Homo sapiens: one gene and its partners. The protein of the gene in region 1 purifies or fractionates together with the protein of each later gene. This does not show direct contact. Each region holds a gene or a part of one and is shown in the gene's direction. Other genes may lie near its edges.

Region 1 (3,757 bases):
CTAATACATATTATTGGCAAGTGTGTGGAGATCAAGCCTTAGGTGCACTGCTGATGGGAATATAAATTTGTACAGTCTTTCTGGTACATAATTTGACAGCCTATCAGAATTTTGAATGTGCTTATCTTTGATCCATCAGTTGTTTTTCAAGGGATTATTTCTAGGAAAAAATTGGATAAATACCCTATAATTTGTAAGATGTGTGCATAAAGGTAAAGATATATACTGTAAAGTTTATAATAGCAATTTTTTTTTTTTGAGATGGAGCCTCGCTCCTGTCGCTCAGTCTGGAGTGCAGTGGCACACTGCAACCTCCACCTCCCGGGTTCAAGTGATTCTACTTCCTCAGCCTCCCGAGTAGCTGGAATTACAAGCATGTGCCACCATACCCAGCTAATGATTTTATTTTTAGTAGAGACGGGGTTTCACCATGCTGGCCAGGCTGGTCTTGAACTCCTGACCTCAGGTGATCCACCCACCCCAGCCTCCCAGAGTGCTAGGATTACAGGCATGAGCCACCGCACGCCGCCTAGAATAGCAATTTTTTTAAACCCACCATTGGAATAGCCCTTGTCTAATCTGGAGGTGTTTGGTGAATTATAGTATGTTACCATATAGGCAGTTAAATAATGGTAGAATTTTTTCTTTATGAGATAAATCAGAATAGACTTAGAATAAAAAAAAAACTTTCTCCTTAAGAAAAATCAATTCCTTTAAGTCACAGTTTCCTCATTTAAAATCAGTATAAGGAGATGTACAGAACTTATTAACATAGCTCCTGATAATAAGTAACTGCTATTATTATTACCATCTCCAAATTTTTCAGTTAACGTTTTTTAGTAATCAGAAAGAAAATATTTACATACACACACACACACGACCTCAGCCAGGCAGCTTATACCATATCAATATCAAAGGTTAGTTAAAGACCAGTTCTTAGACTCAACAGACATAAATTCAGGTGGTCTGGCTTTCTGTGAACTCTGGCAGGTCCCTAAGTTTTAAAAATAAACTTATCTCCAAAATGGAAATACTAACCAAAGTGCCAAACTCTGAGTGTTGTTTTGAGGCTCAAATGAAATAATGTAAGTATGAGTAATTTGAAAAAGTAAAGTGCTCTACAAACACATTTAGTATAAGAGCTGGTTTTAAGCATATTGCTTTGCTAGATTGTTGCCTAGCATAATGCCTAGAATCTAATGGGTTATGCATTCATTACTTATGTATTTTTTAATTGATAAATTGTTTACTTTTTCCTGCATATTCAAAGTTTGATTTATGTATAATCCTTTGATATGTAGATTTTCAGCTTTTTCACTTTTCGTTATAATAGAAAAAATAACTATTACAATTGGTGTACATTGTTCCCCTTTCTCTTACTTTAGGAATGGAACATTACTAAACTTTCAATTGAGTATGATTCTGAGCCCTTTGGAAAGGAACGAGACGCAGCTATTAAGAAACTGGCAACTGAAGCTGGAGTAGAAGTCATTGTAAGAATTTCACATACATTATATGACCTAGACAAGTGAGTCCTTTTTTTTTTTTTACTGTGGGAAAATGCGTATAACATAATATTTACCATCTTAACCATTTTTAAGTATATAGTTCGGTGGTATTAACTACATAGATAAGTTTTTAACTGAGGTTTATAAAGTAGAAATAACATGTACTTCACAGAGTTATGGGAGAATTAAGTGAACATATGTCAAATCCTTAGCATTTTATTTAGCTGCTATTGACCCAATGACAGGTATCAGCATTTCAGTTTCAAAACTATTATGGATTAAGACTATTACAGAATTTTCCTTGACTACTCTTAACTCAGCCTCCTGTGGTCTTGCCTTTCTGGGCTCTTAGCATTATCAATTTTATAGTTATATATAGTTATAAATTGCCTTGACATATTTTGTATGCTTGTTTAATGTTATCTTATTTCATGTATATCTATTATGTCTGTCTGGATTTTAAATCCAGATGCAAATTGGATGTAATATAACATTGCATAGCTGTAGTCCTCTGAACAATGGCATAATAGAATATTTCCCAAAGTGTATTTCTTCCAGCACCAGTCCTTGGTGATGCTTTGTCCCACAGAAATTCTGTGGTCAAACTTAAATTTAGGGAGTGTTATATGCTATGAGTCTTAGAGGTCTGTAAAACTTAACTTTTTAAAACTTTTGGCATACCATTGTCCTTTTAAGTACTGAAATCTTATAATTTATTTACCTTTTAAATCATTTTACTTTTTTAGTAATTTATGTATTTTATCAAGTTAGTAAAACAAATTCTGTAACATGACAAACTAGTTGATTTGATTTCACATTTTAAATGTATCAAAAAATCATGATTTGATTCAGACAAAGGTCTTGATACTAAGCTAGAATTCATATATCTTTTAATAATAATCTTGCCTTCGAGCTCACCAATTTGCTTAACTTTAAGGAGCTCATAGCAAGGAGGGGGCAACACAGGATAAAAGCAGTTGCTTCTAAGTGGGAGACTCAGTGTTATGCATAAAATTGTTTAGGCTAGGCGCGATGGCTCACACCTGTAATCCCAGCACTTTGGGAGGCCGAGGCAGATGGATCACGAGGTCAGGAGTTCAAGACCAGCCTGGCCAAAATGGTGAAACCCTCATCTCTACTAAAAATACAAAAATTAGCCAGGCATAGTGGCGGGTGCCTGTAATCCAGCTACTTGGGAGGCTGAGGGAGGAGAATCACTTGAACCCGGGAGGCAGACGTTGCAGTGAGCCAAGATAGCACCACTGCATTCCAGCCTGGGCAATAGAGCAAGACTCTGTCTCAAAAAAAAAAAAAAAAATCAAGTGTTTATTGGATTGAATGTGAATATTTACTATATGTAATCTATCATATTAAAATGTAACATATAGAAAATGTTTTGTCCTAAGATTCTCATTTTGCTACTGTTGTGTAATTAACAATGTCCTCAGTAGTATTATTGTAGCATCATTACATTCAGCAAAATTCATTGCAACCCTATGAATAAATTCAAAATACACCAAAACAAAATTTACTTAAACAGGATATCTTTTATGGTGATTGCTTTCTGTATTACTTTCTGTATGTATCTGTAGTTGATACATCACTACGTATTGTATAATGAAAAATACACTAAAATACACTAAGAAAACCTTGATTTGCCGTTTATCAGTTATATGACCTTGACTAGTTTACTTAACTCTCCTGGTAGGCCTGTTTTCACATCTATAAAATGATGGAGTTGGATTTCACCTGTCATTTTTTATTAAGGCCAAATGCTAAGCAAATGGCCATAGTGAAAAAGAGTAGTTATTCCAAAAGAGTGTCTAAACTTAATCTTTAACTACCATTGGCAAAGCTAGTTATTTTTTTAATTAATAATTGATTGAGTTAATTAATGATCAGAAGTAAAAAGATACTTAAATTTAAATAACTTGAAATTTGGGGGCTTATGTGTTCTAAGTATGTGACATAGATACATATGCTGACATCTCTCATGCCTTCATTAGCACAATAGAAAATAGGAAGTAATTGTCACCACAGTAATATAGAATCAAAATTTATAAAATTTGCTGAAGGAAATAGGGTAATTGTTTTAGTCTGTTTTCACGATGCTGATAAAGACATACCCGAGACTGGGCAATTTACAAAAGAAAGATTTAATGGACTTACAATTCCACACGGCTCAGAAGGCCTCACAATCATGGTGGAAGGCAAGGAGGAGCAAGTCATGTCTTACATGGATGACAGCA
Region 2 (3,757 bases), on another chromosome or scaffold:
ATGGGGCACACTCACAGATTGTGTGGTAAGTTACTAAGAGAACAGAAGGGTTCTAAGGGGTGTAGAGAACCGGTGGAGGTGTTTTCAACGTTATAAAACTTTTTATTTTGTAGGTAATGAGAGACCCCCAAACAAAACGTTCCAGGGGCTTTGGTTTTGTGACTTATTCTTGTGTTGAAGAGGTGGATGCAGCAATGTGTGCTCGACCACACAAGGTTGATGGGCGTGTAGTGGAACCAAAGAGAGCTGTTTCTAGAGAGGTATTTTAATAATACATTGTGTAATATGTGAAATTGTTGTGAAAGTTTGTTTCTTGACTTAATATATTACTTTATTTGTAGGATTCTGTAAAGCCTGGTGCCCATCTAACAGTGAAGAAAATTTTTGTTGGTGGTATTAAAGAAGATACAGAAGAATATAATTTGAGAGACTACTTTGAAAAGTATGGCAAGATTGAAACCATAGAAGTTATGGAAGACAGGCAGAGTGGAAAAAAGAGAGGATTTGCTTTTGTAACTTTTGATGATCATGATACAGTTGATAAAATTGTTGGTAAGTAGCAATTTATGGTAACTTGAATGAGAAAGTAGAACTGGTTTTTCTGTTTTGAACTAAATTTGCTAAATTGTAATTTTCTGTTGCGTGTAATGGCATTTATAGTGTATAGTCAATTTTCATAGTGTCTGCCTGTGTAATCAGTATCCAGATCAAGAAATAAACATAAACATCTCAGAATGCTCCTTCATTACCAGAGTCACTACCTGATTATGTCTTAATGGGTTACATAATGACAGAGGGTATCTCATATATGTGCTTTTCCAAACATAAAATAACTTTTTGTTTTGTTTGATTGAAAAAAAATTTAGTTCAGAAATACCACACTATTAATGGGCATAATTGTGAAGTGAAAAAGGCCCTTTCTAAACAAGAGATGCAGTCTGCTGGATCACAGAGAGGTGAGTAGGACCATACACATGTATACAGTGGATATGAGTGGTGTTTGTAAGGTTCTTAAAAATCTCCCTTGCCTGTATTAAAGGTCGTGGAGGTGGATCTGGCAATTTTATGGGTCGCGGAGGGAACTTTGGAGGTGGTGGAGGTAATTTTGGCCGTGGTGGAAACTTTGGTGGAAGAGGTAGGCTGTTTATCTTCTAAGTACATGGATACCTGACATTTTGGTAAGTTGAATATATTATTTTAATTCATTTCTTGTTTTTCCTCAGGAGGCTATGGTGGTGGAGGTGGTGGCAGCAGAGGTAGTTATGGAGGAGGTGATGGTGGATATAATGGATTTGGAGGTGATGGTAGGTGGCTTATTTTCATTGATGTTTGATATTTTAACTTTCTTTACTTATTGAAAATTATTTATTACACTTTTCTAATTTTAGTTAAAACTTCAGTGGCTAAATGGTTAAGGTGTATTTCCAAACTGTACATGGAAGAACAGGAACCCTTTTTCCCCTGGAGAGACATTAGCTGCTCTTTTTCAGCAAGTAGTAGGGGTTGAGCTAGAATTGTTCTATTAAGTCTGAGACTATATTTTTCTTAGTGAAATTTTGTAAAATGAAAACTGATTTTCTTTTTTACTATCAGAAGATGGGTTACACATTTATTTTTCATTCTTACTAGTGCAGATACTTGATACTCTATTATTATTAGGTATTACCAGGCTTCAGAGTGCTAAATCAATTCATTGGCTTATTTGCCAGTGGCTTAAATGTAATATAAAACCAGAGTTGAGTAATTCTAGCTATTCAGGAGGCTGAGGCAGAGGGGTTGCTTGAGGTGAGGATTTTGAGACTAGTCTGAGCAACATAAGGAGACCGTATATCTAGAAAAATAAAATAGGGGAACATGGTGGCACATGCCCATAGTCTAGCTACTCAGGAGACTGAGGTGGGAGAATGGCTTGAGCCCAGGAGTTCAAGGCTGCATTGCTGTGGTTGCACCACTGTACTTGAGCCCGGGCAACAGAGCAAGACCCAGTCTCTTACACACACACCAGAATTGAATAACGTGACTATACACTTAAGTTTTTGTGTGGTCTTGTTATTTGTTGTTTTTTTAGGTGGCAACTATGGCGGTGGTCCTGGTTATAGTAGTAGAGGGGGCTATGGTGGTGGTGGACCAGGATATGGAAACCAAGGTGGTGGATATGGTGGAGGTGGAGGATATGATGGTTACAATGAAGGAGGAAATTTTGGCGGTGGTAAGCATTCACTTGTTTTATTTAAATGTTAAATATTCAGTGTTGCTAACAGTTCCCATGACACATATTTGGAAAGTGTTAAAAGCGTTTGATCAAATTTTATGTTCTATAAGAAAAATACTAAAATGGTTGGTAGTTCAAACCAAATTTTCTTGACTTTGCTGGTTATTTAGTAAAATGTACAAATGTACTCAGCTCTCTTTTTTCTTTTTTTTTTTTTTTTTTTTTTTTTTTGAGATGGAGTCTTGCTCTGTTGCCCAGGCTGGAGTGCAGTGGCGTGATCTCAGCTCATTGCAATCTCCGCCTCCCGGGTTCATGCGATTCTCCTGCCTCAGCCTCCCTAGTAGCTGGGACTACAGGCGTATGCCAGCACGCCCGGTTAATTTTTTTGCATTTTTAGTAGAGATGGGGTTTCACCATGTTAGCCAGGATGGTCTCGATCTCCTGACCTTGTGATCTGCCCGCTTCTGCCTCCCAAAGTACTGGGATTACAGGCATGAGCCACTGCACTCAGCCAAATGTACTGAATTTTTAGTTGAGTAGTAAAAAATGGACATTTACCAGTATTCAGTACATGTTTTACGTGTAAAAGATTGGGAGTTTATTTATTGCCAAAATTTTACTTAACTCCTTGGTACTTTTAAACTGGACAACCGGGAATAAATTGTTTGAATACTCCAGACGTGTTGAAGTGAGCAGGTTGCCATCTAGGGCCCAGGTTAACAAAGTACTTTGGGTCTTAATATAATATGTCACAGGTAGTTGAAGCGTTTAAGCAAGCTAGTGTATGTAGGTCATTAAGCCACAATACTGTTAAAAGCTTTCTTAGGAATGCACTGTTTTATTGGACCTAATTAACATGTCAATGACAGATGAGTGGAAGTTTTAACAAGTTAGAATGCCTTCTCATTGTTTTAAATGTTATACTGCTTCAGAATCATAGTGAATGGAACACTGGCAATTTTAATGGTGTTAATGGTAGAGAGAACATGCGCCTAGAGGACAGCATTTAATATAAACAAAATGTTGATGGTCTTTTAATATCCTGACATCAGTTACCCCAAGTGGTGCTACCACAGTGATGTGTATAAGCATGCTACCATAATTCTCAAAAGATAATAGTTACATACGTTAAAAGGGGAAAATGATGATTGTGTAGGTAAACCACACATAAAACCTTTCTGATTTCAGGTAACTATGGTGGTGGTGGGAACTATAATGATTTTGGAAATTATAGTGGACAACAGCAATCAAATTATGGACCCATGAAAGGGGGCAGTTTTGGTGGAAGAAGCTCGGGCAGTCCCTATGGTGGTAAGTACTTTCTTAAATCAATTCTTTAGAGCCTTTTTAATTTAAAAAATGTGCATACTTCTTTTAAAATACTATGTATATTTTCAGGTGGTTATGGATCTGGTGGTGGAAGTGGTGGATATGGTAGCAGAAGGTTCTAAAAACAGCAGAAAAGGGTAGGTATCTTTAAATTTTTATTATGATGATAAAAGAATATGTGGAACTGTTCACTGAGTGTAATAATTTTTTTATCCT
Region 3 (3,632 bases), on another chromosome or scaffold:
TTATACTCTTTTTGTAATACTGTGATGGGCCTCATGTCTTGATAAGTTAAACTTTTGTTTGTACTACCTGTTTTCTGCGGAACTGACGGATCACAAAGAACTGAATCTCCATTCTGCATCTCCATTGAACAGCCTTGGACCTGTTCACGTTGCCACAGAATTCACATGAGAACCAAGTAGCCTGTTATCAATCTGCTAAATTAATGGACTTGTTAAACTTTTGGAAAAAAAAAGATTAAATGCCAGCTTTGTACAGGTCTTTTCTATTTTTTTTTGTTTATTTTGTTATTTGCAAATTTGTACAAACATTTAAATGGTTCTAATTTCCAGATAAATGATTTTTGATGTTATTGTTGGGACTTAAGAACATTTTTGGAATAGATATTGAACTGTAATAATGTTTTCTTAAAACTAGAGTCTACTTTGTTACATAGTCAGCTTGTAAATTTTGTGGAACCACAGGTATTTGGGGCAGCATTCATAATTTTCATTTTGTATTCTAACTGGATTAGTACTAATTTTATACATGCTTAACTGGTTTGTACACTTTGGGATGCTACTTAGTGATGTTTCTGACTAATCTTAAATCATTGTAATTAGTACTTGCATATTCAACGTTTCAGGCCCTGGTTGGGCAGGAAAGTGATGTATAGTTATGGACACTTTGCGTTTCTTATTTAGGATAACTTAATATGTTTTTATGTATGTATTTTAAAGAAATTTCATCTGCTTCTACTGAACTATGCGTACTGCATAGCATCAAGTCTTCTCTAGAGACCTCTGTAGTCCTGGGAGGCCTCATAATGTTTGTAGATCAGAAAAGGGAGATCTGCATCTAAAGCAATGGTCCTTTGTCAAACGAGGGATTTTGATCCACTTCACCATTTTGAGTTGAGCTTTAGCAAAAGTTTCCCCTCATAATTCTTTGCTCTTGTTTCAGTCCAGGTGGAGGTTGGTTTTGTAGTTCTGCCTTGAGGAATTATGTCAACACTCATACTTCATCTCATTCTCCCTTCTGCCCTGCAGATTAGATTACTTAGCACACTGTGGAAGTTTAAGTGGAAGGAGGGAATTTAAAAATGGGACTTGAGTGGTTTGTAGAATTTGTGTTCATAAGTTCAGATGGGTAGCAAATGGAATAGAACTTACTTAAAAATTGGGGAGATTTATTTGAAAACCAGCTGTAAGTTGTGCATTGAGATTATGTTAAAAGCCTTGGCTTAAGAATTTGAAAATTTCTTTAGCCTGTAGCAACCTAAACTGTAATTCCTATCATTATGTTTTATTACTTTCCAATTACCTGTAACTGACAGACCAAATTAATTGGCTTTGTGTCCTATTTAGTCCATCAGTATTTTCAAGTCATGTGGAAAGCCCAAAGTCATCACAATGAAGAGAACAGGTGCACAGCACTGTTCCTCTTGTGTTCTTGAGAAGGATCTAATTTTTCTGTATATAGCCCACATCACACTTGCTTTGTCTTGTATGTTAATTGCATCTTCATTGGCTTGGTATTTCCTAAATGTTTAACAAGAACACAAGTGTTCCTGATAAGATTTCCTACAGTAAGCCAGCTCTATTGTAAGCTTCCCACTGTGATGATCATTTTTTTGAAGATTCATTGAACAGCCACCACTCTATCATCCTCATTTTGGGGCAGTCCAAGACATAGCTGGTTTTAGAAACCCAAGTTCCTCTAAGCACAGCCTCCCGGGTATGTAACTGAACTTGGTGCCAAAGTACTTGTGTACTAATTTCTATTACTACGTACTGTCACTTTCCTCCCGTGCCATTACTGCATCATAATACAAGGAACCTCAGAGCCCCCATTTGTTCATTAAAGAGGCAACTACAGCCAAAATCACTGTTAAAATCTTACTACTTCATGGAGTAGCTCTTAGGAAAATATATCTTCCTCCTGAGTCTGGGTAATTATACCTCTCCCAAGCCCCCATTGTGTGTTGAAATCCTGTCATGAATCCTTGGTAGCTCTCTGAGAACAGTGAAGTCCAGGGAAAGGCATCTGGTCTGTCTGGAAAGCAAACATTATGTGGCCTCTGGTAGTTTTTTTCCTGTAAGAATACTGACTTTCTGGAGTAATGAGTATATATCAGTTATTGTACATGATTGCTTTGTGAAATGTGCAAATGATATCACCTATGCAGCCTTGTTTGATTTATTTTCTCTGGTTTGTACTGTTATTAAAAGCATATTGTATTATAGAGCTATTCAGATATTTTAAATATAAAGATGTATTGTTTCCGTAATATAGACGTATGGAATATATTTAGGTAATAGATGTATTACTTGGAAAGTTCTGCTTTGACAAACTGACAAAGTCTAAATGAGCACATGTATCCCAGTGAGCAGTAAATCAATGGAACATCCCAAGAAGAGGATAAGGATGCTTAAAATGGAAATCATTCTCCAACGATATACAAATTGGACTTGTTCAACTGCTGGATATATGCTACCAATAACCCCAGCCCCAACTTAAAATTCTTACATTCAAGCTCCTAAGAGTTCTTAATTTATAACTAATTTTAAAAGAGAAGTTTCTTTTCTGGTTTTAGTTTGGGAATAATCATTCATTAAAAAAAATGTATTGTGGTTTATGCGAACAGACCAACCTGGCATTACAGTTGGCCTCTCCTTGAGGTGGGCACAGCCTGGCAGTGTGGCCAGGGGTGGCCATGTAAGTCCCATCAGGACGTAGTCATGCCTCCTGCATTTCGCTACCCGAGTTTAGTAACAGTGCAGATTCCACGTTCTTGTTCCGATACTCTGAGAAGTGCCTGATGTTGATGTACTTACAGACACAAGAACAATCTTTGCTATAATTGTATAAAGCCATAAATGTACATAAATTATGTTTAAATGGCTTGGTGTCTTTCTTTTCTAATTATGCAGAATAAGCTCTTTATTAGGAATTTTTTGTGAAGCTATTAAATACTTGAGTTAAGTCTTGTCAGCCACAATGTTGTCATTGGTTCAAATCTGGTATTTCCTTTGGAGGAAAAGGGGAACAGCCCCTCTGGGACCAAACTATAGTCCCCTGAGATGGGGAACAAGTACAATCCTTGATAACAATCCTGGAATACTTCATCTTTGGAATGTCTGAAAGTACATCCGGTTCAGTAATTACTAGGCATATTAAGTCTTATGTTAGAACAGACTCTGCTAAAGGTAAAAACACCTTGAGGGCAAGTTAGGAGGGTCTGGCTAGGAGGTCACAGAGCAGATGCGGTGGATGGAGTGGCAGAACCCCATGGCTAAGGTCATAAGTGCTCCTCCAGTCACTACTGCACACCTTGCTGAAGGGGGAGGATCAGCCCTCCTTTAAGTGGCTGTAGGTGGGAAGTTTATGTTTGCTCTTTTCAGAAGATGTCTGAGGAATGAGCCAGGATTAGATTAAGATGGTTAAGATGCATTTTAAAATCATTGTGAAGCCCACTTTCTCCTAACTTCTGACTTTCTGACCAGACAAGTGAATGAGCTGGAGAAGCAAGGAAAAAGATTATTCTGTTTATCTGTGTAGACACTGAGGGTCCATCCCACTTTCAGAGTATTTTAAAATTTACCCACTTTTGGAAGTGGAAACCCTTTCTTTAAAAGACGTGATAGCCAGAAGC

Evidence for each region.
Region 2: the proteins of CRY1 (region 1) and HNRNPA3 purify together in Homo sapiens (affinity purification with mass spectrometry; 2 studies listed by BioGRID and IntAct, with this or other methods). This does not show direct contact.
Region 3: the proteins of CRY1 (region 1) and FOXO1 purify together in Homo sapiens (affinity purification with western blotting; 2 studies listed by BioGRID). This does not show direct contact.

Annotation. Positions count from the first base shown.
Region 1 is NC_000012.12:107,002,877-107,006,633, reverse strand, and holds part of CRY1 (cryptochrome-1), read left to right. Parts: intron 1-1,385; coding exon 1,386-1,528; intron 1,529-3,757.
Region 2 is NC_000002.12:177,215,637-177,219,393, forward strand, and holds part of HNRNPA3 (heterogeneous nuclear ribonucleoprotein A3), read left to right. Parts: coding exon 1-25; intron 26-113; coding exon 114-260; intron 261-341; coding exon 342-552; intron 553-866; coding exon 867-956; intron 957-1,039; coding exon 1,040-1,135; intron 1,136-1,223; coding exon 1,224-1,304; intron 1,305-2,068; coding exon 2,069-2,209; intron 2,210-3,400; coding exon 3,401-3,523; intron 3,524-3,610; coding exon 3,611-3,663; 3' UTR 3,664-3,678; intron 3,679-3,757. UniProt on the Homo sapiens protein: Plays a role in cytoplasmic trafficking of RNA. Binds to the cis-acting response element, A2RE. May be involved in pre-mRNA splicing.
Region 3 is NC_000013.11:40,555,010-40,558,641, reverse strand, and holds the end of FOXO1 (forkhead box protein O1), read left to right. Parts: 3' UTR 1-2,975; downstream 2,976-3,632. UniProt on the Homo sapiens protein: Transcription factor that is the main target of insulin signaling and regulates metabolic homeostasis in response to oxidative stress.